4 separate regions of the Homo sapiens genome follow, and all the other regions are linked to region 1. Evidence: fine-mapped expression QTL. A gene starts in region 1. Each other region holds a variant in brackets. All regions are shown on one strand. Distances are between the middles of the regions. Region 1 holds the start of PDCD1LG2 (programmed cell death 1 ligand 2). Region 2 overlaps CD274 (CD274 molecule). Region 3 overlaps PDCD1LG2 (programmed cell death 1 ligand 2). Region 4 overlaps CD274 (CD274 molecule).

The links. PIP is the estimated chance that this variant, and not a neighbour inherited with it, causes the effect.
Region 2: its variant is fine-mapped to the expression of PDCD1LG2 in whole blood (TOPMed, PIP above 0.99).
Region 3: its variant is fine-mapped to the expression of PDCD1LG2 in whole blood (TOPMed, PIP 0.96).
Region 4: its variant is fine-mapped to the expression of PDCD1LG2 in whole blood (TOPMed, PIP above 0.99).

Annotation. Positions count from the first base shown.
Region 1 is chr9:5,506,535-5,514,679 of GRCh38, forward strand. PDCD1LG2 (programmed cell death 1 ligand 2) reads left to right here and starts at 3,997. Exons shown (of 7, transcript NM_025239.4): 1 at 3,997-4,269. The region is part of intron 2 of INCR1 (interferon stimulated noncoding RNA 1); the gene reads right to left. RefSeq lists enhancers at 2,545-3,744, 3,686-3,765, 3,826-3,885, 4,046-4,095.
Region 2 is chr9:5,466,907-5,475,051 of GRCh38, forward strand. CD274 (CD274 molecule) reads left to right here. Exons shown (of 7, transcript NM_014143.4): 7 at 934-3,648. The coding sequence ends at 956. The region is part of intron 2 of INCR1 (interferon stimulated noncoding RNA 1); the gene reads right to left. Among named protein-coding and RNA genes, the nearest start is that of CD274, 20 kb to the left of the region's middle. The variant T/G (reference allele first, on the strand shown) is at 4,919.
Region 3 is chr9:5,553,503-5,561,502 of GRCh38, forward strand. It overlaps PDCD1LG2 (programmed cell death 1 ligand 2), which reads left to right. Exons shown (of 7, transcript NM_025239.4): 5 at 4,116-4,250. The region is part of intron 1 of INCR1 (interferon stimulated noncoding RNA 1); the gene reads right to left. Among named protein-coding and RNA genes, the nearest start is that of PDCD1LG2, 47 kb to the left of the region's middle. The variant T/C (reference allele first, on the strand shown) is at 4,206.
Region 4 is chr9:5,454,739-5,462,883 of GRCh38, forward strand. It overlaps CD274 (CD274 molecule), which reads left to right. Exons shown (of 7, transcript NM_014143.4): 2 at 1,362-1,427; 3 at 2,341-2,682; 4 at 8,096-8,145. The coding sequence starts at 1,376. It overlaps INCR1 (interferon stimulated noncoding RNA 1), which reads right to left. Exons shown (of 3, transcript XR_007061406.1): 3 at 2,693-4,449. Among named protein-coding and RNA genes, the nearest start is that of CD274, 8.3 kb to the left of the region's middle. RefSeq lists a silencer at 4,511-4,805 and enhancers at 4,511-4,805, 4,722-4,781. The variant C/T (reference allele first, on the strand shown) is at 4,681.

The sequences.
Region 1 (8,145 bases):
AATGGGAAAACATTCCATGCTCATGGATAGGAAGAATCAATATCATTAAAACGACCAAAGCGGTTTATAGATTCAATGCTGTTTCCACCAAACTACCAGTGATATTCTTCACTGAACTAGAAAAAAATATTTTAAAATTTATATGGAACCAACAAAGAGCCCAAATAGCCAAGGCAATCAAAGCAAAAAGAACAAAGCCAGAGGCATCATCCTACCAGACTTCAAACTATACTACAAGGGTACAGTAACCAAAACACCATGGTTCTGGTACAAAAACAGACACATAGACCAATGGAACAGAATAGAGAACCCAGAAATAAGGCTGCACACCTACAATTATCTGATCTTTGACAAAGCTGACAAAAACAAGCAATGGAGAAAGGACTTCCTACTCAATAAATGGGGCTGGGATAACTGGCTAGCCATATACAGAAGATGGAAACTAGACTCCTTCCTTACACCAGATACAGAAATCAACTTAAGATGGATTAACAACTTAAATGTAAAACCTAAAACTATAAAAAACCCTGGAAGACAATATAGGCAATACCATTCTGGACATAGAAGTGAGTGAAGATTTCATGACAAAGACACCAAAAGCAATTGCAACAAAAGCAAAAATTGACAAATGGGATCTAATTAAACTAAAGAGCTTCTACACAGCAACAGAAACTATCAACAAAGTAAACACACAACCTACAGAATGGGAGAAAAGTTTTGCAAACTATGCATCTGACAAAGGTCTAATATCCAGTATCTATAAGGAACTTAAACAAATTTACAAGAAGAAAACAAACAACCCAATTAAAAAGTGGGCAAAGGACATGAACAGGCGTTTTTCAAAAGAAGACATACACATGGCCAACAAGCATATAAAAAAGCTCAATATTACTTATCATTAAAGAAATGCAAATCCAAATCACAATGAGAGATCCTCTCACACCAGTCAGAATGGCTATTATTAAAAAGTTAATAAGTTGGCCGGGTGCGGTGGCTCACACCTGTAATCCCAGCACTTTGGAAGGCTGAGGCAGGTAGATCACAAGGTCAGGAGATCCAGACCATCCAGGCTAACATGGTGAAACCCCGTCTCTGCTAAAAATACAAAAAAATTAGCCGGGCGTGGTGGCGGGCGCCTGTAGTCCCAGCTACTCAGGAGGCTGAGGCAGGAGAATGGCATGAACCCAGGAGGTGGAGCTTGCAGTGAGCTGAGATCTCACCACTGTACTCCAGCCTGGAAGACAGAGTGAGACTCCATCTCAAAAAAAAAAAGTTAATAAACAACATGCTGACAAGGTTATGGAGAAAAGGGAATGCTTATACACTATTGGTGGAGTGTAAATTAGTTCAACCATTATGGAAAGCAGTGTGGCAATTCCTCAAAGAGCTAAAAACAGAACTACCATTCAATCCAGCAATCCCATTACTGGGTATATACCCAAAGAAATGTAAATCATTCTATCACAAAGACACATGCACACACATGTTCATCATAGCACTATTCACAATAGCAAAGACATGGAATCAACCTAAATGCCCATCAACGACAGACTGGATAAAGAAAATGTGGTACATATACACCAAGGAATACTATAGAGCCGTAAAAAAGAGCATGTCCTTTGCGGGAACATGGATGGAGCTGGAAGTCATTATGCTTAGCAAATTAATGCAGGAACAGAAAACCAAATACCACATGTGTTCACATATAAGTGGGAGCTAAGTGATAAGAACACATGGACACAAAGAGGGGAACAACACAAACTGGAGCCTAGCTGAGGGTGGAGGCCCCAGGGAGGAGGGAGATGAGCAAAAAAAAAAAAAAAAAAAAAAAAAAAAAAAAAAAAAATGACTGGGTTCTAGGCTTAGTATCTAGGGGACAAAATAATCTGTATGACAAACCTCCATGACACGAGTTTACCTATGTAAAATAAAAGTTTAACAAAAAACTAAAAAAGTTACCTATGTAAAACAAAAGTTTAACAAAAAACTAAAAAAAGTTACCTCCACCCAGAAATGCCTTTATTAACACTTTGGTTTGTAACCCTCCATTATTTTCTCTAGACATATAGATTTATGAGGCAGGCTAATGTGCTGAGACACTAGCTTGAGTTTCATTTGGCCTTGCTGTGAATATACCTGGGCCTTCCTTTGCTTCAGGATGCCCTAAACTGTGGCAAAGCAGAGCTGAACTGCCCAAAGGAAAGTGTGAAGAGGAGAGGCAGGCCAAGCCTGGAGAAAGGCTACCCAAGAGAGAGGAAAGGAAACTGTGGTGAGTGCACCTCACTCCTAAAGAAGGACAGGAACTCTGGTAGGTGAGGTGTGTTTTCCATAGATACTAAAACTCAAAGCCACACAGGGGACATATGTCCATTCCTCAGCCAGTCACTGTGGCCAGGAACAGAGGGTCAGGTAAGAGAATGGCAACTCCTAAGGAAACCACATGCCTGGAGCCGTGGGTGTAGAAGCAGATCCCCAGAGGAAGCACGGGTCCCACAGACACAGTCCCAACTCTTGCCGTCTAGGCAGCCACTCCCATCTGTAGGTACTACACAGCTTCGTAGTACTTCTTAAAGTACTTCTTGTTCAAGCGATGGGACGAAAAGAGGATGCAGGACAAGGAGGAGGAAAGGAGATCCTTGCTTTTGTAGAAGAAACAAGGAGGCAGGGAAGGCTTAGAGGACAGGCAAGGAGAGATGTTTTCTTAAAAACATCCTCTGTCTGAGTGTTCAGCCCCACATCTCTGCTGGTCCTACCCCTATAAGCACAAGGAAAAGGGCGGGAGGCAGCAGGAGAAGGATTGATCATTCAGGCCTATATTCAAGTTTGCCTTTTCTTGCCATGTGGTTTTAATCTCACCAATCACAAGCCTGAAGGTATAGTGGGGCCACTGAGGTCCGAGTTCAAATTCAGCCATGCAACTAAGGAAACATTGTTTGATCTTGGTCCTGTTTTCTCATGTGTAAAATGGGTCTAACTCTAAACCACACATTGCACTGAGAATGAAATGAGGCACTATGAAATGAAGTGAGGTTAGTTGAATAATGTTCCCCCCAAATTCATGTCTACTGAGGACCTCAGAATGTGACTATATTTGGAAGTAGGGTCTACGCAGATGTAGTCTAAATGAGGTCATACTGCATTAGGGTGGGCACTAATCAAACGGATGGTATCCTCATAAGAGGAGAGGAATGTAGAGATACACACAGAAAAGAATGTCATTTGAAGATGGAGGCAGAGATTGGAGTGATACAACTATAAGTCAGGGAATGCCAAGGACTTGAGGTCATGTGTTACAGAAGCCCTAGGAAATGAGTCAATTTCCTGGCACAGCACTAAGACATGCTGGTATTCTTCATTCCATCCCTTTCCCCTATTCCTAAATGTGCTCCAGGGACAATGGGGAAGCTGGAGCACATATAAGAATAGGGGAAAGAGAGGGAATAAAAGGGTATTAAAAACTCTCAAGGTATGTTAAAAAAAAGACTCTCAACAAACCAGGTATTGAAGGAACATACCTCAAAATAATAAGAGCCATCTATGATGAACCCACAGCCAACATCACACTGAATAGGCAAAAGCTGGAAGGATGCCCCTTGAAAACCGGCACAAGACAAGGCTGCCTTCTCTCACCACTCCTATTCACCATACTATTGGAAGTCCTGGCCAGAGCAATCAGGCAAGAGAAAGAAAGAAAAGGCATCCAAGAAGGAAGAGAGGAAGTCAAACTACCCATGTTTGCAGATGACATAATTTTATATCTAGAAAATCCCACAGTCTCAGCCCAAAAGCTCCTTAAGCTGATAAACTTCAGAAAGTTTCAGGATCCCACATGAACATACAAAAATCACTAGTATTCCTAAACACCAACCATAGCTAAGCCAAGAGCCAAATCAGGAATGCAATCCCATTCACAGACAAACTGCTAAAAGCAAAACCAAAACTTTCCAAATAAGCCAGGCTTTCGTCAGTTCCTCAGAACTAGTTCTGGTTTGACTCACTCTCATGTTACGGCAAACCTTAAGCTGAATGAACAACTTTTCTTCTCTTGAATATATCTTAACGCCAAATTTTGAGTGCTTTTTTGTTACCCATCCTCATATGTCCCAGCTAGAAAGAATCCTGGGTTGGAGCTACTGCATGTTGATTGTTTTGTTTTTCCTTTTGGCTGTTCATTTTGGTGGCTACTATAAGGAAATCTAACACAAACAGCAACTGTTTTTTGTTGTTTACTTTTGCATCTTTACTTGTGGAGCTGTGGCAAGTCCTCATGTGAGTAACGAGTGGGTTGAGATACTCTCATACTATTATGTTGTGGACCATGATGAGGCTGCCAGGGTGGGGGAAGGGTGGCCTACCTTCTCTCCACACCATTTGAGGCAAGAGACATTCTGCCTCAGAAATTGTGCTGAGGGGCACAAATAAGCTAATGTCCTCCTGCCCCAGATTTCTCTCACTTGTTCCTATGCATATTGTTCTTGTTGCTCAGTTTTATAAGGTGAGATATTTTCTGCACCAAATATGTGCACTGTAAAATAATATAACTATTCTTAAGATTGTCTCTCAGCTTAGAGTTTTCGGAGGCTTAATGGTGAAGAACTTAAAAATCTGTTTTCCTATGACTGACATCTGTTTGTGATTATCCATTTAGCAGACGGTGATCCCTCCAGGCTGGCCTTTGTTTACAAGCTATGCCTAAGAGGCAGCTGTTGGTGGAGGGGGAACAAAAACAAAAAACCCAAAACTATTATCTTAATAACTTATAGAGGTAATCATTATTGAACAAAAGCATGATTTGGGGACTATGGAAAGGCTTATTCTTTCCATATAAAATGATCAGCGAAAAGGTAGAAAAATTAAACAGAACTGAAATAATTGCTATTGATTGCTCACCGCCTGGATGCACTGAGTAGAAGAGCAAAGGCAATGGGTTCATGTGGAGGGGATGGAGGTGGAGAGGCTAAGCCTGAGTGAGATTACCAACTAATCAGGACTTTTAACCCAAAAATACTATGGCTCTGAGGGGCAGGGAATGAGAGACCTAAATTGACAAAATGCAGAGTAAAAATATTCAGTGTGAGCAGTAATGAGACAGTTGTATCAGGGTCAAATACGGAGTTGGCCTGGATGTCCTCCAAGCTCCTTTCCAAGCCTAAGATTCTGTGAGTGGATGAACAATCCTGGTCCTGCTGCTCTTGCCACTGGAACCTGATCTATTTGCCTTCATTATTTGAGGTCTCCCCATCATCAGGCTCTTTGTTGTCTGCTGCTTCAGGGTGTCTTCTCCCCAGATTTCTCCTGTTGGTGAGCTTTTCCATTGAACTGGAGCTCCTCACAGGCAAGAAGCACACCTTTAAGGTTCTCTGAGTCCCAAGTTCCTAGTGCAGTACCTGGCAATACACATAGGTGCTTAGTGGGTGCTTGCCGAATTGTTGAATGGATTTATTTGATGAAATGTCAGGAGAATCACCAGAAATGAAATGTTCGTGTAATGGACAGGGGGAAGTTTGAGGTTGATTTGAAAAAGGAGATGGTAGAGACAGTATTATGGGTCATGCTTCAGAGTTTATTTGCTTTACAATACATTGGACAGCAACCAGTAGATTGTTGTGTGTCATTTTAATTCCACATGCTAATGTCCAAATATGTCATATGTCTTAATTGTTGCATACGTGGGTTACTCTGTAAAGGGGCAACTGTAGTATCACCTCCTCATGCCACACCCTGCTCCACTGTAGCTGGGCTCGATAACCTTCAAATCAACTCACAGAATTCCAGGACAGACAAGAGCATCTGAAAGGTTATCTAGCCCCAGTCACCTCTGATGCCTTCCAGCTGTCTCTAACACACCTGTGGGCTGACTTCCAGTTCTTAGTCTTCACGGCTCCCTATGATGAACTGCCCCTGCTTTGAGGGATTTTCCTCCATTGCCTCAGAAGTACTGCCCTGGGGGAGCTTCTGATGCTCTTCTGACCACCTTGTCTCTGCCTTTTTCACTAGTCCTCTGTTCCTGCTCTCCAAATTTTGGGACGTTCCTGAGTTCAGATCTTTTCTTTATAATCTTTCTTTTATATTCTCCCCATCAGATGGTTCATTCATTCCTCAATATTAACTAACATTTCCATATTAGAAATAACTTCCTTATCTTTAGCCCTAAATTTTGTCCCAAACTCTGGACCTACAATTTTTTGGAATGCTTATGCCTTGCCCAGACTAAAACCAAACTTACTGTCTTCCCTCTAAAATCAGCTCCCCATCTTCTATTTCTCCCTGCCACCCTTCCTCCCCCATGGCTCCAATATTGTCTTGCCAGTCTGGTCTTAAAACCACAGTCAATCTTGTTGCTTTTCTCTTTGTCTCTTGTGCATGGCTGATCAGCAGTCAATTGTTTTGTCAATTGTCTTATATGTTTCTTCTTCCTCTTCCTTGCTTCCTTTTTCTGACCTGAAGTTAGGGCCTTGTTACCAAACATCTAGATGAATACAGTGACCCCCTAATTGAGAGGCTGTCTACCAATTCCACCCACCCTCAATTCTATACTCAAAAAAAAAATTAGATGTAATCTTTTTCAGATACTCCTTTGGTATTGTCACTTAGTTTTTGAGTGACTGCCACTATTTCCCGATTGGCAGCTCTGCCTGGCATTAAGCTCTTGACATTCTCAACCTAAGTGTCCAGCCAAGTTACTCTGTTCATTGTCCCCTCAACACGCCTGTGCATTTGCACCTCTGAGACTGCTTCTGAGTCAGCTATGCACTGCCCTTTAGAATAGCTTCAACCCCAAATCCTACCAGTGCTTCAAAGGCCCAGTTCAAATCCTACCCCTCTGGGAAGTCTCCCTTCCTTTAGTCAACTTCTAGGGCTTTTGCAATTTTATCACTTGTTTTACATCAGTTTTACTATTTTTCATGTGTGAGAGTTTTAACCTTCCAATTATGGTACAATGTCTTTAAGGGCAAGGGCCCTTTCTTAGAGGAAACCCTCTATGAATTCTCCAATGATAAATTATTCTATGAATTCTCACAACTTTCTAATATAAAGGCTTATAAAAAGTGGGAACTCACTGTTTATTGCTTAAAAAATTGAGATTTAATTTGAACTTAAATGCTCTATTAAATTGAGTAGAATAGCATCTTAAGGCTACTGGTAGTCTATCTATGCCACAGATGGTTTAGAGATCAAATAATTACTCATATACCTATGACAGCAGAGTACTGGCTGTAAGATCCCCCCAAAACTCAAATACCTATTGGGTTTGTCAGGCAACAAAAATAAGTGAATCCAGCTAGGTCTAATACAATGGAAAATGGTAGGACCTGGGGCAAACTCTGCATAACTTGCCCAAAGGCATTCAAATTCAGATTATGTTCAGACATTGCTAATTACAATTAGTGTCTTAGACACTTGGCTTCAAAACAGTGGTTAGTTCAGGTATTTCAGATCAATTGGGTATGCATTTATCTAGGTCTTCATGGATAGCCGGGCTCTACTAGACACTGGGAGAGGGAAGAGGCAAATGGGATAAGACTGGCAGTATTTAACAAAGAATGAAGTATTTTACAAACATGATCCTTTAGGCTGGTTATTGTTACACAAAGGAATGATTTGCTAGGATTCTTGAGATACTTCCATAGAATGTCTATGCCTCACTTATTGCACAGACCAGAGAATTCCATAAAAGCACTGGCTGTGTCTTATTTACCCTTGTATACTAGAGCTTGGCACATAGTAAATACCAAGTAAATGTTTTGAATAAAAGAAAGAGATAATTAAAGCTTCAGCACCACAATTATTTGTATTTCATCTATCAGTTTGGAAATAGATCTCCACAGACAGTAGAAATGGCAAGAAACTAGGCCTATAGCAACCAAGAAGTGAAACTGCTAGAACCTACCATCATTTCTGATCCTCTTGCAAATTTTGCTTGAAAAAAATTTCCTCATTTTCTGTTTACGAACTTATCCTCAGAATTTACAGATGTTTCCTTGATTTCTCTGGAAAGATACAACTTCCTAATGCAATTGAGTAAATTGATACTTCTTATGTAGAAATAAGCAGAATAAGCTGGGCAAGGTAGCCCACAACTATAGTCCCAGCTACTTGGGAGGCTGGGGCAGGAGGATCACTTGAAGCCAGAGTTTGCTTGAG
Region 2 (8,145 bases), 40 kb before region 1:
CAGTCATAATCTCCTCTCCTTTTAAAGAATGCTGGTTCCCCTTTGCCTCACAGCTAACACAAGAACTCCTCCACCGTCTGAGGAGGTTTAGGAGCAGGGAAGGGGAAGGAGTCAGCTTCATTTGCTAATCTTCTGTTGCCCTGCACCCTAGCAGCTCCTTGCAGCAGGGGACAAGGATGACTTAGGTGGATGGATAATTAATTGATTCTAAAATATTGTGTGTCAGTATTGTAATACTATGTTAATTGCACCATGCACGGTATCTCATTTAATCCCCCACCCCTTGCCATTACCAAAGAGAGAGAGAGAGAGAGAGAGAGAAATACTAGAATTTATCCTCATTTTACAGTAGAGAAAACAGAGGGTCAAGAAGATAATGTAAAGTGCCCAAGAACACACAGCTGATCACAAAAATCAAGCTTGGGGGCCATTAGCCTAACCACAGACCCTTACTCTTAACCCATCTGCTTCAATCCATTTTGCTACAAATGTTTACATTTATAAGCAGGGCAGAAAAACCTCATCCAGGTTATTGAACTAAGAAGAAAGTTATATTAAGGTTTCTAATTTTTTTAATGTAGTTAGAAACCAAACTTAACAATGAGCCCAAGTTTAAAGCAGTCTAATTAACCTGGACAAGCTCAGGCAAGTTTCATTCTGTGGCCCATAGCATCATCTGTGTTGTAAAGCTAAGTAGCAAATGTTGTTTGGGTCATGCTGGGGGACAAGCCATCCCAATTTGCTCAGGACTGAGGGGTTTTCCAGGATATCATGTAAGGATAATTGGGTACAAATATAACCTGCTGCTTTCTCTCATTTCAAATTTATCATTTATCATATCAGCAACTATGAGTTATGTTTTTTATTAGATTTCTTGTTACTTTTTCCCCAGACCACTTCCCATGAAATTAATATACTATTATCACTCTCCAGATACACATTTGGAGGAGACGTAATCCAGCATTGGAACTTCTGATCTTCAAGCAGGGATTCTCAACCTGTGGTTTAGGGGTTCATCGGGGCTGAGCGTGACAAGAGGAAGGAATGGGCCCGTGGGATGCAGGCAATGTGGGACTTAAAAGGCCCAAGCACTGAAAATGGAACCTGGCGAAAGCAGAGGAGGAGAATGAAGAAAGATGGAGTCAAACAGGGAGCCTGGAGGGAGACCTTGATACTTTCAAATGCCTGAGGGGCTCATCGACGCCTGTGACAGGGAGAAAGGATACTTCTGAACAAGGAGCCTCCAAGCAAATCATCCATTGCTCATCCTAGGAAGACGGGTTGAGAATCCCTAATTTGAGGGTCAGTTCCTGCAGAAGTGCCCTTTGCCTCCACTCAATGCCTCAATTTGTTTTCTGCATGACTGAGAGTCTCAGTGTTGGAACGGGACAGTATTTATGTATGAGTTTTTCCTATTTATTTTGAGTCTGTGAGGTCTTCTTGTCATGTGAGTGTGGTTGTGAATGATTTCTTTTGAAGATATATTGTAGTAGATGTTACAATTTTGTCGCCAAACTAAACTTGCTGCTTAATGATTTGCTCACATCTAGTAAAACATGGAGTATTTGTAAGGTGCTTGGTCTCCTCTATAACTACAAGTATACATTGGAAGCATAAAGATCAAACCGTTGGTTGCATAGGATGTCACCTTTATTTAACCCATTAATACTCTGGTTGACCTAATCTTATTCTCAGACCTCAAGTGTCTGTGCAGTATCTGTTCCATTTAAATATCAGCTTTACAATTATGTGGTAGCCTACACACATAATCTCATTTCATCGCTGTAACCACCCTGTTGTGATAACCACTATTATTTTACCCATCGTACAGCTGAGGAAGCAAACAGATTAAGTAACTTGCCCAAACCAGTAAATAGCAGACCTCAGACTGCCACCCACTGTCCTTTTATAATACAATTTACAGCTATATTTTACTTTAAGCAATTCTTTTATTCAAAAACCATTTATTAAGTGCCCTTGCAATATCAATCGCTGTGCCAGGCATTGAATCTACAGATGTGAGCAAGACAAAGTACCTGTCCTCAAGGAGCTCATAGTATAATGAGGAGATTAACAAGAAAATGTATTATTACAATTTAGTCCAGTGTCATAGCATAAGGATGATGCGAGGGGAAAACCCGAGCAGTGTTGCCAAGAGGAGGAAATAGGCCAATGTGGTCTGGGACGGTTGGATATACTTAAACATCTTAATAATCAGAGTAATTTTCATTTACAAAGAGAGGTCGGTACTTAAAATAACCCTGAAAAATAACACTGGAATTCCTTTTCTAGCATTATATTTATTCCTGATTTGCCTTTGCCATATAATCTAATGCTTGTTTATATAGTGTCTGGTATTGTTTAACAGTTCTGTCTTTTCTATTTAAATGCCACTAAATTTTAAATTCATACCTTTCCATGATTCAAAATTCAAAAGATCCCATGGGAGATGGTTGGAAAATCTCCACTTCATCCTCCAAGCCATTCAAGTTTCCTTTCCAGAAGCAACTGCTACTGCCTTTCATTCATATGTTCTTCTAAAGATAGTCTACATTTGGAAATGTATGTTAAAAGCACGTATTTTTAAAATTTTTTTCCTAAATAGTAACACATTGTATGTCTGCTGTGTACTTTGCTATTTTTATTTATTTTAGTGTTTCTTATATAGCAGATGGAATGAATTTGAAGTTCCCAGGGCTGAGGATCCATGCCTTCTTTGTTTCTAAGTTATCTTTCCCATAGCTTTTCATTATCTTTCATATGATCCAGTATATGTTAAATATGTCCTACATATACATTTAGACAACCACCATTTGTTAAGTATTTGCTCTAGGACAGAGTTTGGATTTGTTTATGTTTGCTCAAAAGGAGACCCATGGGCTCTCCAGGGTGCACTGAGTCAATCTAGTCCTAAAAAGCAATCTTATTATTAACTCTGTATGACAGAATCATGTCTGGAACTTTTGTTTTCTGCTTTCTGTCAAGTATAAACTTCACTTTGATGCTGTACTTGCAAAATCACATTTTCTTTCTGGAAATTCCGGCAGTGTACCTTGACTGCTAGCTACCCTGTGCCAGAAAAGCCTCATTCGTTGTGCTTGAACCCTTGAATGCCACCAGCTGTCATCACTACACAGCCCTCCTAAGAGGCTTCCTGGAGGTTTCGAGATTCAGATGCCCTGGGAGATCCCAGAGTTTCCTTTCCCTCTTGGCCATATTCTGGTGTCAATGACAAGGAGTACCTTGGCTTTGCCACATGTCAAGGCTGAAGAAACAGTGTCTCCAACAGAGCTCCTTGTGTTATCTGTTTGTACATGTGCATTTGTACAGTAATTGGTGTGACAGTGTTCTTTGTGTGAATTACAGGCAAGAATTGTGGCTGAGCAAGGCACATAGTCTACTCAGTCTATTCCTAAGTCCTAACTCCTCCTTGTGGTGTTGGATTTGTAAGGCACTTTATCCCTTTTGTCTCATGTTTCATCGTAAATGGCATAGGCAGAGATGATACCTAATTCTGCATTTGATTGTCACTTTTTGTACCTGCATTAATTTAATAAAATATTCTTATTTATTTTGTTACTTGGTACACCAGCATGTCCATTTTCTTGTTTATTTTGTGTTTAATAAAATGTTCAGTTTAACATCCCAGTGGAGAAAGTTACTTGGAATATTTGCAGCCTTGTTCCTAGTTCTTTTTTCATTGCTTATACAGCATGTTTTTATACAGCATGCTTTTGAATCCTGCACAATGAAAAAAGTATCAAAAGATTTTATTTTAAAAAAGAATGTATTGAAAATTTTCATTCTCTCTCATTCGGCAGCTTCCTTTAGGACCATACCAAGAAGAGTCAAAATCCTGTCATCTACATTGAAGATCTAAGGGAGAGAGGGTGGGAGAGAAGGAGTGGAACCCAATAGAACTATAGGGAAACAAAGGGACTTACCTCTAAGAAAGTACTTTTCCCAGATCTGTAAACGGGTATGCAATCCAGTGTGTAGGAAGATAGATGTATTGCAGTCTTCAAGTTTTGAAAATAAAGCGAGGAAACTAGAACTAAGCCAAGTTGAGGATTAAGGGCTAGCAATGGTTAGGACCATAGATCTGTGGTTTTAAACAAGCATGACAAAACTTATCATTCAAGGAAGTATAGACCTTTTAATGTGTCATCCGGTGAGATTTTAGTCATGAAATTCCATTTTAAAAGACTATCACTTATTTGAATCAGATACTCTTAAAGGATTATAATGGCTATTTCTAAGAATATGTGTTTGACTCTAGATGCTTTTGTTTGTTTGTTTTTGAGACAGAGTTTTGCTCTTGTCACCCAGGCTGGAGTGCAATGGCACTATCTCAGCTCACTGCAACCTCCGCCTCCAGGTTCAACTGATTCTCCTGCCTCAGCCCCTCGAGTAGCTGGGATTACAGGCACCTGCCACCACTCCTGGCTAATTTTTGTACTTTTAGTAGAGACAGGGTTTCACAATGTTGGCCAGGCTGATCTCGAACTCCTGACCTCAGGTGATCCACCCATCTCAGCCTCCCAAAGGGCTGGGATTACAGGTGTGAGCCACGGTGCCTGGCCTCTGGATGTTTTCAGTAGTAATGATGATGCACTATTTATGCTAGCCCTTGGGCAGTCAAAGCAATAAAAATGTGTGCTAGACATCAAGATATCTGGCCTTCCTAATCAGGAAAGGATATGGAGAACTAGTCTTCCTGGCTTGCCTTGGTGGTATGGAAATTTTGTGACACTTGAGGGGTCTGTATTATAGAAAAGTTAATATGAAAATGGTTCATAAGCTTTCATTAAACTTTTGTTCTAGTCCCTTTTACAAGTGTGTGCCTGTCTGCCACAAGTAGGCCTAATATATTTTTTAAGTTTTATTTTTAATTGACATATAATTGACTTTTTTTTAT[T/G]ATTATACTTTAAGTTCTAGGGTACATGTGCACAAAATGTAGGTTTGTTACATATGTATACATGTGCCATGTTGGTGTGCTGCACCCATTAACTCGTCATTTACATTAGGTACATCTCCTAATACTATCCCTCCCTCCTCCCCGTACCCCACGACAGGCCCCGGTGTGTGATGTTCCCCATCCTGTGTCCAAGTGTTCTCATTGTTCATTTCCCACCTATGAGTGAGAACATGCGGTGTTTGGTTTTTTGTCCTTGCAATAGTTTGCTGAGAATGGTTTCCAGCTTCATCCACGTCCCTACAAAGGACATGAACTCATCCTTTTCTATGGCTGCATAGTATTCCATGGGGTATATGTGCCACATTTTCTTACTCCAGTCTATCATTGGTGGACATTTGGGTTGGTTCCAAGTCTTTGCTATTGTGAATAGTGCTGCAATAAACATACATGTGCATGTGTCTTTATAGCAGCATGATTTATAATCCTTTGGGTATATACCCAGTAATGGGATGGCTGGGTCAAATGGTATTTCTAGTTCTAGATCCCTGAGGAATTGCCACACTGTCTTCCACAATGGTTGAACTAGTTTACACTCCCACCAACAGTGTAAAAGCGTTCCTATTTCTCCACATCCTCTCCAGCACCTGTTGTTTCCTGACTTTTTAATGATCGCCATTCTAACTGGTGTGAGATGGTATCTCATTGTGGTTTTGATTTGTATTTCTCTGATGGCCAGTGATGGTGAGCTTTTTTTCATGTGTCTGTTGGCTGCATAAATGTCTTCTTTTGAGAAGTGTCTGTTCATATCCTTCACCCACTTTTTGATGGGGTTGTTTGATTTTTTCTTGTAGATTTGTTTAAGTTCTTTGTAGATTCTGGATATTAGCCCTTTGTCAGATGGGTAGATTGTAAAAATGTTCTCCCATTCTGTAGGTTGCCTGTTCACTCTGATGGTAGTTTCTTTTGCTGTGCAGAAGCTCTTTAGTTTAATTAGATCCCATTTGTCAATTTTGGCTTTTGTTGCCATTGCTTCCAGTGTTTTAGTCATGAAGTCCTTGCCCATGCCTATGTCCTGAATGGTATTGCTTAGGTTTTCTTCTAGGGTATTTATGGTTTTAGGTCTAACATTTAAGTCTTTAATCCATCTTGAATTAATTTTTGTATAAGGTGTAAGGAAGGGATCCAGTTTCAGCTTTCTACATATGGCTAGCCAGTTTTCCCAGCACCATTTATTAAATAGGGAATCCTTTCCCCATTTCTTGTTTTTGTCAGGTTTGTCAAAGATCAGATGGTTGTGGATGTGTGGTATTATTTCTGAGGGCTCTGTTCTGTTCCATTGGTCTAGATCTCTGTTTCAGTACCAGTACCATGCTGTTGTGGTTACTGTAGCCCTATAGTATAGTTTGAAGTCAGGTAGCGTGATGCCTCCAGCTTTTTTCTTTTGGCTTAGGATTGTCTTGGCAATGCAGGCTCTTTTTTGATTCCATATGAACTTTAAAGTAGTTTTTTCCAATTCTGTGAAGAAAGTCATTGGTAACTTGATGGGGATGGCATTGAATCTATAAATTACCTTGGGCAGTAGGGCCATTTCACGATATTGATTCTTCCTATCCATGAGCATGGAATGTTCTTCCTTCGGTTTGTGTCCTCTTTTATTTCATTGAGCAGTGGTTTGTAGTTCTCCTTGAAGAGGTCCTTCACATCCCTTATAAGATGGATTCCTAGGTATTTTATTCTCTTTGAAGCAATTGTGAATGGGAGTTCACTCATGATTTGGCTCTGTGTTTGTCTGTTGTTGGTGTATAGGAACGCTTGTGATTTTTGCACATTGATTTTGTATCCTGAGACTTTGCTGAAGTTGCTTATCAGCTTAAGGAGATTTTGCGCTGAGACGATGGGGATTTCTAAATACACAATCATGTCATCTGCAAACAGGGACAATTTGACTTCCTCTTTTCCTAACTGAATACCCTTTATTTCTTTCTCTTGTCTGACTGCCCTGGCCAGAACTTCCAACACTGTGTTGAATAGGAGTGGTGAGAGAGGACATCCCTGTCTTGTGCCAGTTTTCCAAGGGAATTCTTCCAGTTTTTGCCCATTCAGTATGATATTGGCTGTGGATTTGTCATAACTAGCTCTTATTATTTTGAGATACGTCCCATCAATACCTAGTTTATTGAGAGTTTTTAGCATGAAGCGCTGTTGAATTTTGTCGAAGGCCTTTTCTGCATCTATTGAGATAAACATATAGTTTTTGTCTTTGGTTCTGTTTATATGATGGATTACGTTTATTGATTTGCGTTACGTTGAACCAGCCTTGCATCCCAGGGATGAAGCCAACTTCATGGTGGTGGATAAGCTTTTTGATGTGCTGCTGGATTCAGTTTGCCAGTATTTTACTGAGGATTTTTGCATCGACGTTCATCAGGGATATTGGTCTAAAATTCTCTTTTTTTGTTGTGTCTCTGCCAGGCTTTGGTATCAGGATGATGCTGGCCTTATAAAATGAGTCAGGGAGGATTCCCTCTTTTTCTATTGATTAGCATAGTTTCAGAAGGAATGGTACCAGCTCCTCTTTGTACCTCTGGTAGAATTCAGCTGTGAATCCATCTTGTCCTGGACTTTTTTTGGTTGGTAGGCTATTAATTATTGCCTCAATTTCAGAGCATGTTATTGGTCTATTCAGAGATTCAAATTCTTCCTGGTTTAGTCTTGGGAGGGTGTATGTGTCCAGGAATTTATCCATTTCTTCTAGATTTTCTAGTTTATTTACGTAGAGGTATTTATATTATTCTCTGATAGTAGTTTGTATTTCTGTGGGATCAGTAGTGATATCCCCTTTATCATTTTTTATTGCATCTATTTGATTTTTCTCTCTTTTCTTCTTTATTAGTCTTGCTAGCGGTCTATCAATTTTGTTGATCTTTTCAAAAAACCAGCTCCTGGATTCATTGATTTTTTGAAGGGTTTTTCATGGCTCTATCTCCTCCAGTTCTGCTCTGATCTTAGTTATTTCTTGCCTTCTGCTAGCTTTTGAATGTGTTTGCTCTTGCTTCTCTAGTTCTTTTAATTGTGAGGTTAAGGTGTCAATTTTAGATCTTTCCTGGTTTCTCTTGTGGGCATTTAGTGCTCTAAATTTCCCTCTCCACACTGCTTTAAATGTGTCCCAGAGATTCTGGTATGTTGTGTCTTTGTTCTCGTTGGTTTCAAAGAACATCTTTATTTCT
Region 3 (8,000 bases), 47 kb after region 1:
AAACAGGGGCCTGTATGAGATGAATTGAGAAATAACTTTACACCACTGATTATGTCAGTGTTCTATTCTGCATGGTAGAGATGTGAAAGGGCAGACTGACCATTGCTCTGGAAGCCTTTACGCTGTGAGAAGTTAACAGTGGAGTAAAATGGCCACTCCACTCTCTTCATGGAAGCCAACATGGCTTACTAAATAGTCAACAACCATGGGAGAGACCTGTGGGGTCTTCATCAGAGCTCAGGATCTCCTAGGGTATCACTCATAAATACAGCCATCAGGGAGATGGAGAAATCTTTGTGCAGCCAGAAATTCTCAACCTGGTTTTACCCATCCTTCCCAACTTTGTATTCGTCCTACTGTTTACTGACATGGATCCTCTGCTTCATTAACCATCCCTTCCTCACCACATGCTCTCTGAACTTGGCTGCACCTTTTCTACCTCCATGCCTTCTTTGCTCAGGTTTTTCCACATAAATATCATTATTTCCCTCTCTACTAGCTCCAAGCCCACCCTCTCTCTGGGGCAGCTCAGTCACTCCAGGGCACAAGGGGGTCTTTCCCTCATCCCACATTTTGAGACCTACTACCTGGACCATTTGTTTGCCTTGTAACTATGCTTGCCTTTTTAATTGCTATTTTATTTTCCATGTATTTTCATTGTTCACACAAGTCTTCTTTATTCCACACTAAGGCAAAAGCAGAGTCCTGTGTTCATAATAAGTGCTCAACAAATGTTGGGTTGATTGGGTTGGAGATTCCATCTTAGATAATCGCAGTCCCATCATGCCAGCTACCAGACTGTGTGGACAGCCAGGTCAGAGCAGCCAAATGATATTCTAGCTTGTGGCACAAATACCAGCAACAAAATAACCAAAGTCACACATCTGCCTCTGAGTTCCTGGCTTCTATTTCTCAAGGGCATTTTTAAGTTGTCTTATGACTGTTCCCTTTCTACTCATTCTCATAAATTGAGCTGTGGACTGCTGTGACCCACAAGCTTCTCCGGAAGTCAATGTATAAAACAAACACGGAAACGAAGAGTATGGTGGGTGGAGGGTACTCCACTGACTCTAGAATGGATGACTGAACATTCCAAATTTCAAGCACAAGTTAGGGAGCAACAGATCATTTTCCTTTTGAAATAGGGTTTCTTCTGCTCAGCCAGTTGTTGTATTTTCATTAGGAAATGGAATGGGACTACAGCACAAAAAATAAATATAAAAGGACCCTTGTAGGGCTGGCAGAAAAGAGAATCCTTCCTAGGAGACCTGGAGGTGATTCCAGGCAGTGGTTGAGAGCATGGGCTCTGATGTCAGACAGGCTTAAATTTCAAACTCTCTCTCTATTAGCTTTGAGAACCTAAATATCCTACTTAGCCACTCTAGCACTCAGTCTCTCATGTGTAGCATGAGGGTGAGTAGTGGTAGACAGTTTATAGGGTTATAGTGAGGATTAAATGAAATGTGCTTATAAAGTGCTTAGTACTCAGAAAGTGTGCAAACAGTAAAAAAAAATGGTATATCTAGCAAGTTGCATGCCTTACTTGTGAGTTCATGAAGTTGTGGCAAGGATAAGACAAATATTTTTTGCCATTGCATCATTATATCATTGCTAAGAGTATGCCATTATTGGCCAGGTGCGGTGGCTCATGCCTGTAATCCTAGCACTTTGGGAGGCTGAGATGGGTGGATTGCTTGAGGCCAGGAGTTCAAAAATCAGCCTGGCTAACATGGTGAAACCCCGTCTCTACTAAAAATACAAAAAATTAGCCAGGCATGGTGGCAGGTGCCTGTAATCCCAGCTACTCAAGAGGCCGAGGCAGGAGAATCACTTGAACCCAGGAGGCGGAGGTTGCAGTGAGCCAAGATCATGCCACTGCACTCCAGCCTGGGCAACAAGAGGGAAACTCCTTCTCAAATAAATAAATTAATTAATTAAATTAAAGAAACGACAAAAGAGTATGCAAGAATTTTAAAACAACTTAGAGGAATATGTATGAGGATACAGGCTAAGCTACCATAATGAAGAGACCTCGAAATACAGTGAGAAGCGAGACAGAAGTATCTTTCGTTCCATGTAACACTCAGGTGGTTCAGAGCAGCTAAGCAGCTATGTTCCATAGAGTCATTCAGTGATCCAGATTATTTTCATCTGTTGCTCTGCCATTCTCCAGGATGTTGTCCCTATAAAATTGTCAAAGCTCAGTCAGTGCCAAACCCATGTTTCAACCTTCAGAAAGTAAACGAGTGGTGGAAAACACATTCAATGTTTTAAGGCCAAGACCTTGAAAACTCACTCTCTTAGCCTGAACTTAGATTACATGGCTGGGCCCACTTAACTATAGGGGAGGCTTGGAAACATAGTCTCTGAGAAGCCATGTGTCCAGCTAATTCCCTAATACTAAAGTTGAAAGAAAGAATGGATTAACCAGCAGTATACCACAAGGTAACAAATGACTAGGAGGATCAGGCTAGGTGGACTAGAAAAGAGACAGTCAATTCAGTGCAACAATTCCATATTGGCACTTTTCATGTAGCTGTTGCTTGGCTCTATCTAGAGAGGACTCAGAGGTAGTTTAGATAAGGCCTTTGCCCTCCAAATACAGTCTAAGCAGACTGATTTCCTACTGGATGTTCAACTTTGGAGTCTTCAGGGATGAGTAGGGCTTCTGTACGTGGAAGAGACTATGAGGGAACCTGCACAGGACAAGGGTTTGCATAAAGACACTGAGGTAGGGACCTCTCCTGTTGTGGGGACAGTGAGAGGCCCAGGTCTCCTTGACTCACAAAGTGCTTACTAAGCACTTACTAGAAATTAAGAAGCAGATTATAATCAATATGGGTTATCCAATGTTTGGATGAGCAAGGCTCCTTATCTTTTCTTCGTTAATGTTAATCACACTCTTTTGGATGGAGACAAATATCTGTGGGGGCTGAGCTTTGGGTCAGATAGATCTGGGTTTGCAATCCTGGCATTGACTTTTACTTAGCAGTGATGACCTCACATAGATTATTTAGCAACTCTGAGACTTACTTCCTCAACTCTAAAATGAGGGGCTCAGACTAAATAATGTCTAATCTCTTCTCCAGTAAAACAATCCGTGGTTCTCAGATAGCACTGTGCTGGAGGTAGTGGGGTTTGAGGGCTGGGAAGTTGGGAGGACTGAGCCCTTCCCGCTGAGCAGTTTCGTCCAGTTTTTCCTGTACCAGCCTGTCATGTTTATTCCATGTGAATGACTCCAGAGGCAAAATTCAAGCTTTTGAATAGGGCACAAATTAACTTGAGTACCCTTTCATTTCCCTGTAGGTGAACACTCCTCTAGCCCTGCCTTTTGTCAGTCTGGAGCCCTTGTTCTAATCTGTACACACCAGAGGACTTTACAAGGCTTTCCCCAGCCTCCAGAATTATTCTTCTGATCCACCCTCTACTAAACTCACCCTTTCCTCAGTGCTAGGACGTTGAAAAACCGAAACAAGGCAAAGGGCCAATTGTAATAATTCACACTAAGGCATGAGTGACTAGGTTTAGTATATTAACACTACCTAGGATATTCTATTTCTTCCAAAAGGATCCTGTTAATCCTTGAAATTTAACAACTAATGGTATAGATTCTAAGCACTGTGAGTACTTGTCAGTGGGGGAAAGACATTTTTGGGCTGAGAGACTTTGCCACTGGGAAGAGAGAGAGGATGAGGAGGAGAAGGGGGATAGGGAGGAAAAAGAGAAAAAAGAAAGAAAGATGATTAGATGATAGATGGATGGATTGATGGATGGATGGAAAAAAATAACATGAGAGAGTGGTAAAAAGCACAGAATCTGGAACCAGACTGTATCTTAGCTGGGTCACTTACTATGTAACTTAGGGAAAGCTTCCTAGTCTCTCTGTGCCTCCCTTTCTTCACCAGTGAAATGGGGATCATAGCAGAGCCAACTTCACAGAGTGGTTGCGAGGAGTGGATGAGCTGATAGGTGCAGAGCACTTAGAATAGGGCCTGGTGTGGAGTAAATGCTCCACAGAGCTAGCCGTGTTGGCTGTCACCCACTCATGTGGCCAGCCTGTTGGTCTACCTCTTAGTTGCCATGTAACAGGATTCTGGTGCTTTTCCTTTGCCCAGGTCAGATGGAACCCAGGACCCATCCAACTTGGCTGCTTCACATTTTCATCCCCTTCTGCATCATTGCTTTCATTTTCATAGCCACAGTGA[T/C]AGCCCTAAGAAAACAACTCTGTCAAAAGCTGTATTCTTCAAAAGGTAAGTGAGTTTTATTCATGGTAACCCAATGCACTGGGTGTCTGCAGCATGAGCCACTGCTTTGCACTGCAGGCCTATGGCTTGCTGCTTTCATGCTAAACCCACTCAGAGCTTATGAACCACTTTGAGCTTGTCTTGATGATTATTTTTCCCCAGAAGAAAATGGCTCTCATCGTCAGTGAGCTGAACTTCTTACACTGAGTTTTTTAAAGGGAATGTTTTGTTCTTATGTCTGAAAGAGTTTGTCTTATTCTTTGAGCCAAGAGCTTTCATCAGCCTCATGAGAGTGATGTTATTTTGGCAATGCAGAGAGCTACGTGCTCCGATTTTGCTGGTGGGAGGTTGCCAGGATCCTTTCTGAGGATTCCTTCCATTTTCACCCCTCTTTTCCCCAGTCTGGATATGACCTGGGTTAAACCCACCCCCTCTCCCAGGAATCTCAACCTCACGGTTGGGTAAGGAAAGGAGAAAGGTTTGTGAGGCCATTTGGGGATAAGGAAACAGCTGGTTGGTGGTGCATTAACGTCTTTCAGCAGCTCCCTTCGAGTTTCTCCTTAGCCTGTTGTATTCTTACCAACACACTCCTGTTCTGTTGTACCAGCTGGGACAGAGCATGCTGAAGCCTTTCAGCCCTGATTTCATTGCTTCATTGTTCATGTGTCTGTCTTTGGTTTCCTGGGTGGAGCCTGCCCACAAAACCCCCAGAATGTATGCAGGCCTAGCTGGTGCTTTCCTAAACGGCTCCCTTGTCTGCACTCAATGAACTTCTCCAAAGATCTATACATGGCCTCATCTATAGAAAGAGAAATGACATGTGGAAATAATTCAGTAGGAGTTTGCAGCAGCACTATCTGAGGACTAGGGGAATTTTAAGTGGTTGTTATCTTACATTTATACTCATAACTTCTATATTTTCATCTGCCATAAAATATTGTCATGTTCTATTTGTCCATTGCCCTATGTGTGTATGTATTCACTTGGGTGCTGACCACAATATTTCTAACTGTAGAATGCAAGGAATTGTTGCCAAAAGAAAAAGACAGAGGGAGGGAAGAAGATGGCCAGGGGAGTGAGGGAGAAAGAGAAAACAGGAGATGGAGAAGAAGAAAGATAGAAAGAAAAATAAATGTGGGAGGGAAGGGAGCTTCATGGTAAAGGAGGAGGTATGTCCAACAGAACTTCGACTTTTAAATAGAACCACTTCAGAGAGTTGTGTCAGGTGCACCTCAGTTGTCTTATCTTCTGCCATTCTTCTTTTACCTCTCACACCCATACCTCAGGGTTCAAGGCCTGGGGCCTGAGGACTCCTTAATAACTTCAGAAATGAGCAGCTGAGTGTTCCGTTCCAGCTGTCTTTGGGAGAATGGAATGGAGTCACACTCAAAGATAGAGTGGAAATAAATCCTCTCCTCATCCTTCACCCCAATCTTAAGAGTGAGTGAGGATATCAGTAGCTCCGAGCTGGGAGGTAAAGCTCAAGTTCTAACTGTGATTAGGAGACCTTTCTTACAAATAAGAATTAAGTGAATAAATGTGCAAACAATTTCTTTTATATTTTTAATGAACCAGAGAGAAATCATGGTTGCCTATATAACCCTTGTCTCCAACTCACTTGCATTCAGATCTGCTTTCTTACATGTGTCTGCCATGCACACAAACTTGTGTGCCATGGAAAAGGGTTGAGAACTGCTGGTGATGCAGACAGAGCTTTAAACCAGGGTCAGAGGGCTAGGCTGGGACCTTGTGCTGCCATTTGTTGGCTTTCTGACCTTGTACAAATTGCCTATCTTCTTTGAGATGGTCTTTCTATCTGTAAAAGGGGAAGCAGCAAGAGAAGGAACATTTTACAGCTTATTGGCCGAACTTCACTGCCGCTAGTGTGGTTCAACTTGGACTACAGAGAAATCTTCCTAACTGGTTTCCCTGTATTCACTCCTGCTACCTCCAACTTGGTCTGTTCTCACTTTTTGCTATAATAGGCTTTTAAAAATCATAAATCTACCATGTGTCCTCTGTCCAGACCTTCTCCATGGCTTCTTATTGCTCACTGGATGAAGTTCCAACGAGCCCAGGATGGTTTGACTCATGTCTCCAGCTTTAACTGCATCACCATCACCTTCATTGTCTAAAGCTCTAACCACACAGGATTTTCTAGTCCTCAGAGGCATGGCAGTCTTTCAATTCCGAGTTTTCTCATACAATATTGTCTCTTCTTAAAATATTTTTTCTTGTTGTCCACCTGAGTTGGAGTCATCTTTTAAATCTCAGCTAAGCTTATACTTCATCAAGTCTTTCCTAATTCTACCTCCACGCACCACACCCATTACATTAAATCCCCTTATTATATGTTTCCATAGCACCTACTTCTTCTTTCAGTATACTCAGCACACAATCACATGTCTAGGATCTGTTTTAATAGCTTGGACTACCAATTAAATTGCATCCCTTTTAATTTTCCAATTGATTCCTCAAGTACCCACATGCCCATCTTAGCAAGAAGTTCAGTGTCTCCCTCTTATAGCATGTACTTCTCCACCTCCCACAAACTGCCAGAAAGCTTACTTAGCCCACAGGGCCAGTGCTAGGCAGCTAGGTTAGTCCTCCAGAGGGCCCTGGTTTTGAGCAGTTGCTGTCTACTCCGGCCATGCAGAATCTCTGGTCCTTCCAGATGTCTCCATCCACTGTGCAAAGGTAACCTTGCTGGTTCCGATCCCCACACAGACCACAGTGCTACAAGATTACAGTTCTTATGGTTCCCCAACACATGCTCTGTCATTGGTCCCAAAGCAGGACCCCTATGGGTTGATGAGGTAGGAGGAGGTCCCTGCCTTAGCCACAGCTGCACACAGCCAGCCTCTTCCCTTCTAGGCCCTCATGTTGAGCCTGGGACGCCAGTCCTAACTTCCTTCTCTTCAGTTCCTCTTAGGGCCATTGGTATCCTGAATTTCTTAGTCCATTGCAAAGTTAAGTAAAGAAGCAGCAGGCTTGGTCCCTTTCCTTCCAGATGGCTTCTTAGCTCCTGAACAGATTTACCCACCTATACCTCAGTGACTAGCTCTGTGTACTAAAGTGTATTGGGAGGGCAGCCATTATTGGTCCATAAAAGGTCCTGCTTACCATTTTCCCCTAAGAGGAACCATTCAACAGTTTGGGGCTCGAGGGTGACCTGCTGGGCTCTAGAGAAGAAGCTGGCAACTTCTGTTGCAAAATAATGTTAAATTCTGCTTCATCTGCTTGTCTTTACGTTTCAAGAATACAGTAACTGTGTTTCTCTGATTCACCAATATATGCCCAGTGTCTAAAAAATTACCTGGCATATAATAAATGTTCAATGAAATTTTAAACATTGAACCTACTATATGCAGGTGAGTATGCTAGATCTGCTCTGTCCAATATAATAGCCATCTGTGGCTCTTTTTAAGTTAAATAAAAATTCATCAGTCACATCTTAAGTATTCACACACTGTAAGTGCTCAATAGCCATGTACAGATAATTGCTCCTGTATTGGACAGTACAGATATACAACATTTCCATCATTGCAGAAAGTTCTACTGAAAACCACTGTGCTAGACCCTTTACAAACTTCTCATTTAATTTCACAAAAATTGCTTGTGGCAAGGAGAAGTGTCTTTATGCTGGAGTTAAGAAAGTGAGGCTCAGAAAAGTTATATGACTTCCCAAAGTCATACAGCTGGGATTTGAATACAGGTCTGTTTGACTCCAAAACTTGTGGCCTATTTGTTGCAAAA
Region 4 (8,145 bases), 52 kb before region 1:
AAGTGCCCCCTAAAGAAAAAAATCCTCCCATTAGTGGGTAAGAAAGCCTATTTGTTCATATCTTCACAAACACTAAATATTAGAAATATTTACAATTGTGGTCAAGCTCATAAGTGAAAATGGTATTTCATATCTTATATTTTTTATTGTGAGATTGAACATCTTTCATATGTTTACATGTCACCTGTATTTCTTATTCTCTGAACTATATGTTATGACCTTTCACTTTTTTTCCTCATGGGTTATGTGTAGTTTGTATAGTTGTCTTATTGATTGTTAGGAGCTATTTATATATTAGGAACATTAATCTCCTGTCTTATATATACGTGGCATCGATTAGTTGATCATTTGTGAGTTCATGTCTGTATACAAAGATTGGAGAGGCACTAAGAGGGAAAACTTACCTCTTTCTTATCAAAGTTTGTAAATATATGTATAACAGAAGAGGGAGAAAATATTAATAAATGCACAGATTGGCTGAAATAGAGTATAAATCTTTTACTCCCCTACTTCAACATAAACTGCAAAAGGAGAGTGACTTTTCTTTCACTCTGACTTCCGTATTCCTCATGCTTAAAATAGTGCCTAGCACAGAAGAGGTGCTCAATCAGTGTTTGCTAAACGAAATAATTAGTCACATTTCAAGCAGGATGACTAAATGAAGAATAGAATCTAGGCAGATACTCTGGAAGAGTGGCTGTGAGTCATTCATATCTTAGTATGAATTAGTCAAATCCAACTCTCTCCCCTTCCCACTCCCCACTGTTAGTAGAAGAATCTGTTTATTGAGAGAATAGATTTATAATTTAGAATAAGTGAGAGGGGCAGAAGAGGAGATTTTGAAGGATGGCACCTGAAGGAGGACTAGCATGGCTGAGACAGTGAAGTGGAAGCCTTGAATAGCTAAAGGGTAAGATGAAAGTATTTAGCTGTAGGGGGAAAAAGCATTGACAGGTTGGAAAAGTAAAAGTCAGATTCTCCTTGCTCTGAAATTTTGTACAGGGCAGGTTCTACTAGGTATGTTACAATGCAGAAAAAACATGAAATAATTGAGAGGAATTTGGTGCAATATTATCTTCTTGGCTTCTTTTGAGTGGGCAGATTTTTTTCACGGCCTGTAACTATAATAAATTTGAAACTTCTCATCTTTTAGTAACTTTTTTCACTTAAGTTTATGTGGCTGTGGGCAATGGAATGAAGATATTGAACTTCCAATTCCCTGTTGGGTTTCCACAATTACAAGTCAATCATGACTGGTTATTAGAAGACTATTTCAGTTAGAACCACCAAGTCCCATATTGTCATATTGTATGTTTAATTATTAAGTGAAGCAGTCTTCTTTTCGTGTTTTCCATAATTAGGGCATTCCAGAAAGATGAGGATATTTGCTGTCTTTATATTCATGACCTACTGGCATTTGCTGAACGGTAAGACACCAAATCCTTCCATTAGGTTCTATATTTTAAATATTTTAACCATGAGTTTAAAACTAAAATGATCATTTAAAATGCATGCAATTTTCTTATAGAGAGAACATTCTATTCTTTCTTCTACTTTACACAATGGCAAAGTCTTCTTTCTACTTTACGCAATGATAAAGTTACCTGTGTCATTTTGTAAAAATATAGAGAATATAGACAAATTGAAAGACACAAAATAATCTATTACCCATTTCCCAGGGTTAACTACTGAAAATATCTGGGGAAATGGCCTGTATGTATACATTTATTTGTTTGCTTTCAACAAGGCCAAGATCCTTTGATCTTTCAGTCTTGGTTGCTCTGTGACATGCCTTTCCTGATGAGGATACTTTAAGGAAGAATTGTAAGATACATGGAAAATGTCAGGCTAACACAGTACTGGCATCACCCTGTGCTCTTTCCTGAACTCCATACCAATGTACTTCTTGCCAGAAAACTGATCAAAAGTTTAGGGAAGTAAAAAGAGATGACTGTTAGAATCTACCATTCCCTCTATGTAGGAAGCAAATAGGTGTCCTGTCAAAGGACATTCTGGGGATGTCTACATGAAACCAAGTCTCCCTGGTTGTAAGGACTCCATCTCCATATAATATTTATACAGTAATATATGTTTATAAATTGTGGGGGCAACTTGTTTAGCTAATTTTATTATTCTGCTATTGGGACACTGTGTCTCAGCATGAGATATAGTGTCCCAAAACATATTTCAAGCCCATTGGATAAAATATGTGTTTAGCAAGTTCTTAAATATAATGATAACATAACCGACCAGATAAAGTGATTTATAAACGCTGTGCCAATTTTGTAAATGTTTCGAGGAATTTTCCCTTTTCTGAAGATTGTCCTTCTTTCTTTTTAGCATTTACTGTCACGGTTCCCAAGGACCTATATGTGGTAGAGTATGGTAGCAATATGACAATTGAATGCAAATTCCCAGTAGAAAAACAATTAGACCTGGCTGCACTAATTGTCTATTGGGAAATGGAGGATAAGAACATTATTCAATTTGTGCATGGAGAGGAAGACCTGAAGGTTCAGCATAGTAGCTACAGACAGAGGGCCCGGCTGTTGAAGGACCAGCTCTCCCTGGGAAATGCTGCACTTCAGATCACAGATGTGAAATTGCAGGATGCAGGGGTGTACCGCTGCATGATCAGCTATGGTGGTGCCGACTACAAGCGAATTACTGTGAAAGTCAATGGTAAGAATTATTATAGATGAGAGGCCTGATCTTTATTGAAAACATATTCCAAGTGTTGAAGACTTTTCATTCTTGTAAGTCCATACTTATTTTCAAACAGAACAGCATAGTCTGTTCATTCATTCATTCAATTCATGAATTCATTCACATAATTATCCAATTTCTTGAGCACCTATTTGATAGTCACTGGAAATCCAGAGACAAACAACACAGAGCCATGTTCTACAGTATGTACAGTTTTCCAAAAAGAATTTCTAGTCTTTACTTTTTTATTACAAATGGAATACGTATACTTGCAAATAATTCAGATACTGTGGAAGAGATCAAATGAATTGCAAAAGTGTCCCTCCTCCCTTCACCACTATCTCCCATGGCATGCAGAGAGAGTAACCATTATTTGTGTGTCCCTCCAGAAATTTTTTTATTCAACTACTATTTTTTTATTTTATTAGGTCCGTCAGTTTTCCTTTTTTGAGCCTCTCTATATCAAATGCAAATAAATATATTCAGAACAAACCCCACTGTAAGGTTCACATTAAAAAAGACTTGAAGTCACCCTATGAAGACAAAAAATAATCACATTAAGTGTGAAAGAACCTATTCTTCCAGTACAGGATAAGCCATACTTACTGGGCATATATTCATCTTGAAAATCTATACTGATGTTGTCTTGGGGAATTGAAAAGGAACTAGGAGTGTTAGTTCCTCGGTATTGACCCACAGTTATGTTATCAGGTCACTTGAGTTCAAAGTTTTGTGTTGGCACTAGCTAAGTAAAGGAAAACACCTCTGCTTTCATTGTTGAGTTTCACAGAATTGAGAGCTGAAAGGATCCCAGGCAGGAGCAGCTAATCCAAACTCCCACAAAGAACAAAAATCCCCCAGAGGATCTTCTGTTCTTATATTTCCTGCAATGGCGTCCCTGTCATATCCCACAATGGCCTCCCTGCCATTTGGATATCCCTTCCATATCCTGTTGAAATTACTCCCTAATAGTAAGCTGAAATCTGCCCCTCTAGTTGTAGTCTTGGGATTATTTCATTTACATGATGACCTTTTAATATTTGACTAGAATTAAATCATCTCCCCTTGGTCTTTCCATTCCTGGGCTAACTACCATCAATCTGAGGGCTAACAATACAAGTAGAAAAAGTATACATTTGTCACTGATCACTGATCAATTATTAATCAATGATCACTGATAACTATAAACTCAAAAACAAAATCATGTGGGGATTAAGAGAAATGTATCAGTTTTATGTTGTATTTCTGGTCCCTGATACTGGCTCAGGTAATGCCACTATTGTCAAGAAGATACCACTTGTAAAGTAGATTTAATTTTCATTATATTTTACCATATGCTTCTCCATTCATGACATCTCTTGAGATGTTGTGGTTTATACTTTCAGTTTTTCTCCAGTCCATCCGCAAATATCAGGCATCTACTGTGTTCCAAGATATTAAAGAAATCATCATGACTTAGCCTCATCAACAGCATTGCTAGATCTGGGATGGAAAGGAAGAGTATAATCCTGGCAGTCAGGAAGAAGGCAGCATAAAGTATAAGTTTCTGCTTCCAAAAAAGGTCTCTCATCAGCCTGTAGGGAGTGTGTAGGGAAGGGACAGCTGTCCTTGTAGTAGGGAAGGGTTTTATTCAGGTCGTCTGGGCTCCATAATATCCCTTGTGTATCTGCAGTCTCCTTTGCCATGGATCAACACAATAGGAAATCTTCCGGCACTGATGGTTTTTCCAAGGGGGAGTTCTTCCTGGAGCAAAGCAAATGACCAACCAGGTTTGAGGACCTGATTTGTTTGACAATTCCATTTTGTATTGTAAATTACTTAATTGGCATTCTACTCCCAATCCATCTTGTCATTTGCATACAGTGGTTTTGGGATTGAGTTCAGCTATACCAAAAGTCTGAACCTTCTGCACTTAGAACAAGGCAACCACCAAGCTTCACTTGCACTGAGGCCGTGTCTCCAATGGAAATGAGG[C/T]AGCTGGCTTGCAGGAGCTTCCCAACTCAGGGAAGTAGAACTCCTGAGTCACCTCCATATGCAAATGATTTCACAGTAATGCTGTTGAACTTCACTTCCCATCACAGCAAATGTGTGGTAACATAGCTTCCCCACAGGAGTTTACTCACCATGGTATTTTAAAGGTGAAACATTTCAAAACTGAAATTTGAAAGAATTTAGTTTTGGATTCACTCAATTATCACTATCACTTCGGGTGTTATTGCACCTTTCTTGTTTGTGAGTTTAAATGCCAGACTCTCAGGCCACTAACTTTCAATTAAAAGTGTTTTTCTTTAATCGCTGAACCTAACAGCAGGGAAAACGAAATGTTCATTCAGACTTTCAGAACCTTCAATGAGATTAGGCAGCTGAAAGATCAAAGTGTTGCATAGTTGTCCCGATAAAGCTATTTGGATCATATGGACCAAATCGACTGCTGTCATTCCCCACCAACCCCATCTCTCCCCAAAATTCCCAGCCCTGTTTAAGTGTTCTCTGTAGCATTTATCTCTATCTAGTATATTGTGTAGCATATCATATCATACTTTTCTGTTTTGTTTATTGTCTCTCTCCTCCTAGAATATAAACTCCACAAGCACAAAGATTTGGGCCTGTTTTATAATATTGTTGCATCCCCAGGGCCTGATATACAGCAGAGTGGTGGTACGAAAAGAGCACACAAAAAAATATTTGTTGAGTCAATGAATGAATGATTTCCTCAAATAGGATTAGCCTAAAATTTTGGAAACATGAACAGATTTGGATATGTGAAAATTTATTTCCAGACTGTTCATCAGGAACTGTTAGCAGCTTCTAAAGGGTACACTGGAGCAGCAGTAGTAAAAGGAGGAAGAGGAGCAGCTCTGCTACTGCTACTATCGAGTACTACTACAATTAGCACTTGCTTATTCTGTGTGTTAGGCCCTGTACTGAACACTCTGTCTAAATTAGTTCATTTCCTCCTGGAAATGACTCTAGGGGGTAAGTGCTTCATCATGTAAGATGAGTATTTTTCACATTTTGTTGTGTCTGAAATCTGAGTGTGTCTTTCAATGATGGAATCTTTGATTCCATGATAAGTGGTATTATTCCCATTTTAAGGATGAGGAAACTGAGGTCCAAAGAAATTAAGTAATTTGCCCAAATTCACCCAGCCTAGAAAATGATAAAGCTAGTTCTAAACCCAAGCAGATTAGCTCTGAAGTCTGGGCCCTTAATAACCACTTTTTATTGCCTATATTTGTACCTCTGGTGTACGTATCAAGTTATATGTTGACTTCAAAACTATCATGACCTTTTCTTGGTTTTGATTGTCCAACATTAGTATAGTGTTCTGGGTCTGCAAAAATTTTGATTACTCATCTCATCTGTAAAACATTTTGAACTCGTGTGTTTGTGCATGCACATTTGTGTGTAATTATAAAAATTTTACTTTCTGTTAATATATAAGTTGTATCATAAGAAACTGCCGTTTTTGAAGAGCAAAAAAAGGTTGAATGTTACCAGTTACATCTGGTTCAACCTAATAGACATTTGTACAAAAACAGACATTTTAAGAGGTTGAAATAAAAATTTAATAAACAATATTTTCAGTTTTTACTAATTGTGATGCTTCACTATCATTAGCTAATATGTCAAGGCATAATATACCTTAGGGTGAACTTTATCATTAACAAAGGTGGATGGTGTCAATAATCTTGAGGTTTGTGTTTTTTTATATAACACTGCGAGGTCTAATTAAGTACTTACTGTTTACCACCTCATACAGTGGCCGATAAAAAGTGTCACTTCTGCTGTTTCCTCTGGGTTGTGCTTGAATTATTAGTATTATCTTCAGTCCTCAGTTTCTTTGTGGGAAACTTTTTAATTAGTTGTTTAATTTTGTAAGATGGTTAGTTTAGTCAAAATTAGATAAGAGAATTTGAAAATCCGTAGCTACCCCAAAGCAACCTACACATAAGAACTATTATTTTTGTGTTTTGAAATCATAATTTTATTGATTTCCAGTGTTTCCACTGGTAGTGGTTTCATTGATATAGGAGTATCAAAACATCACTCATTATTTATTTCAGTTTCATTTGATCCTAGCCGTTTTGTATTAACTCTCTGTGAAGAAATTACCTCACAAATCTATTGCTGTCCTTGGTAAAGGAATGGAGAATTAAGGCTCTAGATCATTAGTGGTTACACTATAGTATTAGAAGTAAAAAAAAGATTATACCAACAAAATAAGAACATGTTAATGTACTTGTAATGAATAAACATGAATAAAGCTCTTATGCTATATAGGTGCACTAAACAATCTACTAGAATTGTCAGCAAACTACGTATCTTAATCCTGAAAGGGTCCCAAACCAATGATCTAAAATTGAATCAAACTTTCTTCCTTGAGCATAATTACTTAAATGATTTATTAAAATAGCCAGCATTTAAAAGCTTAAAATGTAAATATCATAATGTGGTATCCTAGATAGCATCCCAGAACAGAAAAAGGATATTAGGGAAAAACTGGAGGAATGGAATAAATTATGCAGTTTAGTTATTAATAATGTACTAACGTCCTTAGTTATGACGATTGTACCATGGTAATGTAAGATACTAACAATAGAGGAAACCGGGTAAGGAGTATACAGTAACTCTATACTATCTTTGCAACTTTTTTGTAAATTTAAAACTTCTAAAATAAAGAACAAATTTAAACATTAAAAAGTATCACCAGGAACATATATCACTGTTTACAGATGAAATACTATGTATTTTCATATCTAATTTCTGATCATTGACTTCAAATCAGAAAAGTGAATGACACCTCAAAATCAGGTTTTCTGTTTACTGAAGTCTAAGAAAAGAAAGCATACCAGCTGGAGAGATTCATGTTTATAAAGACAGATTTATAACAACAAAAATAAAATATCCAAGAATAAATTTAAGAAGAAGCACTTTACTGAGAAACATATGAAAACCTGAACAAATGGAGAGGGATATTTTGTATTTGAATAGAAAGACTTCTGGTTTAAAGATAATTCTCTTTAAATTATTTTTTGTAGAAATTTAAGGGGTACAAGAGCAGTGTTGTCACATGGATATATTACATAGTGGTGAAGTCTGGGGTTTTAGTGTAAATTAATCTTTACATTTTGTTTGAGCCCAATAAATGTACCAACATGATTTTTATAGAAAGATAGTCATTCCTATTAATCCAAACTTGTCCCAACTTTGAATTGAATTGAGGCAGAGCTAGCAGGTGTTCCCCACGGCTGAGGCATCTGAACATTAAGCATATCCCTCTGAGAACCAGCCTGCATTGATACTCTTTCTAATGTGGACAGCATCAAGCTATGTACGTAGTTCTGTGCTCAGCAAAAGCCCTGACTTCTTTTTGTTTATGTCCTAGCCCCATACAACAAAATCAACCAAAGAATTTTGGTTGTGGATCCAGTCACC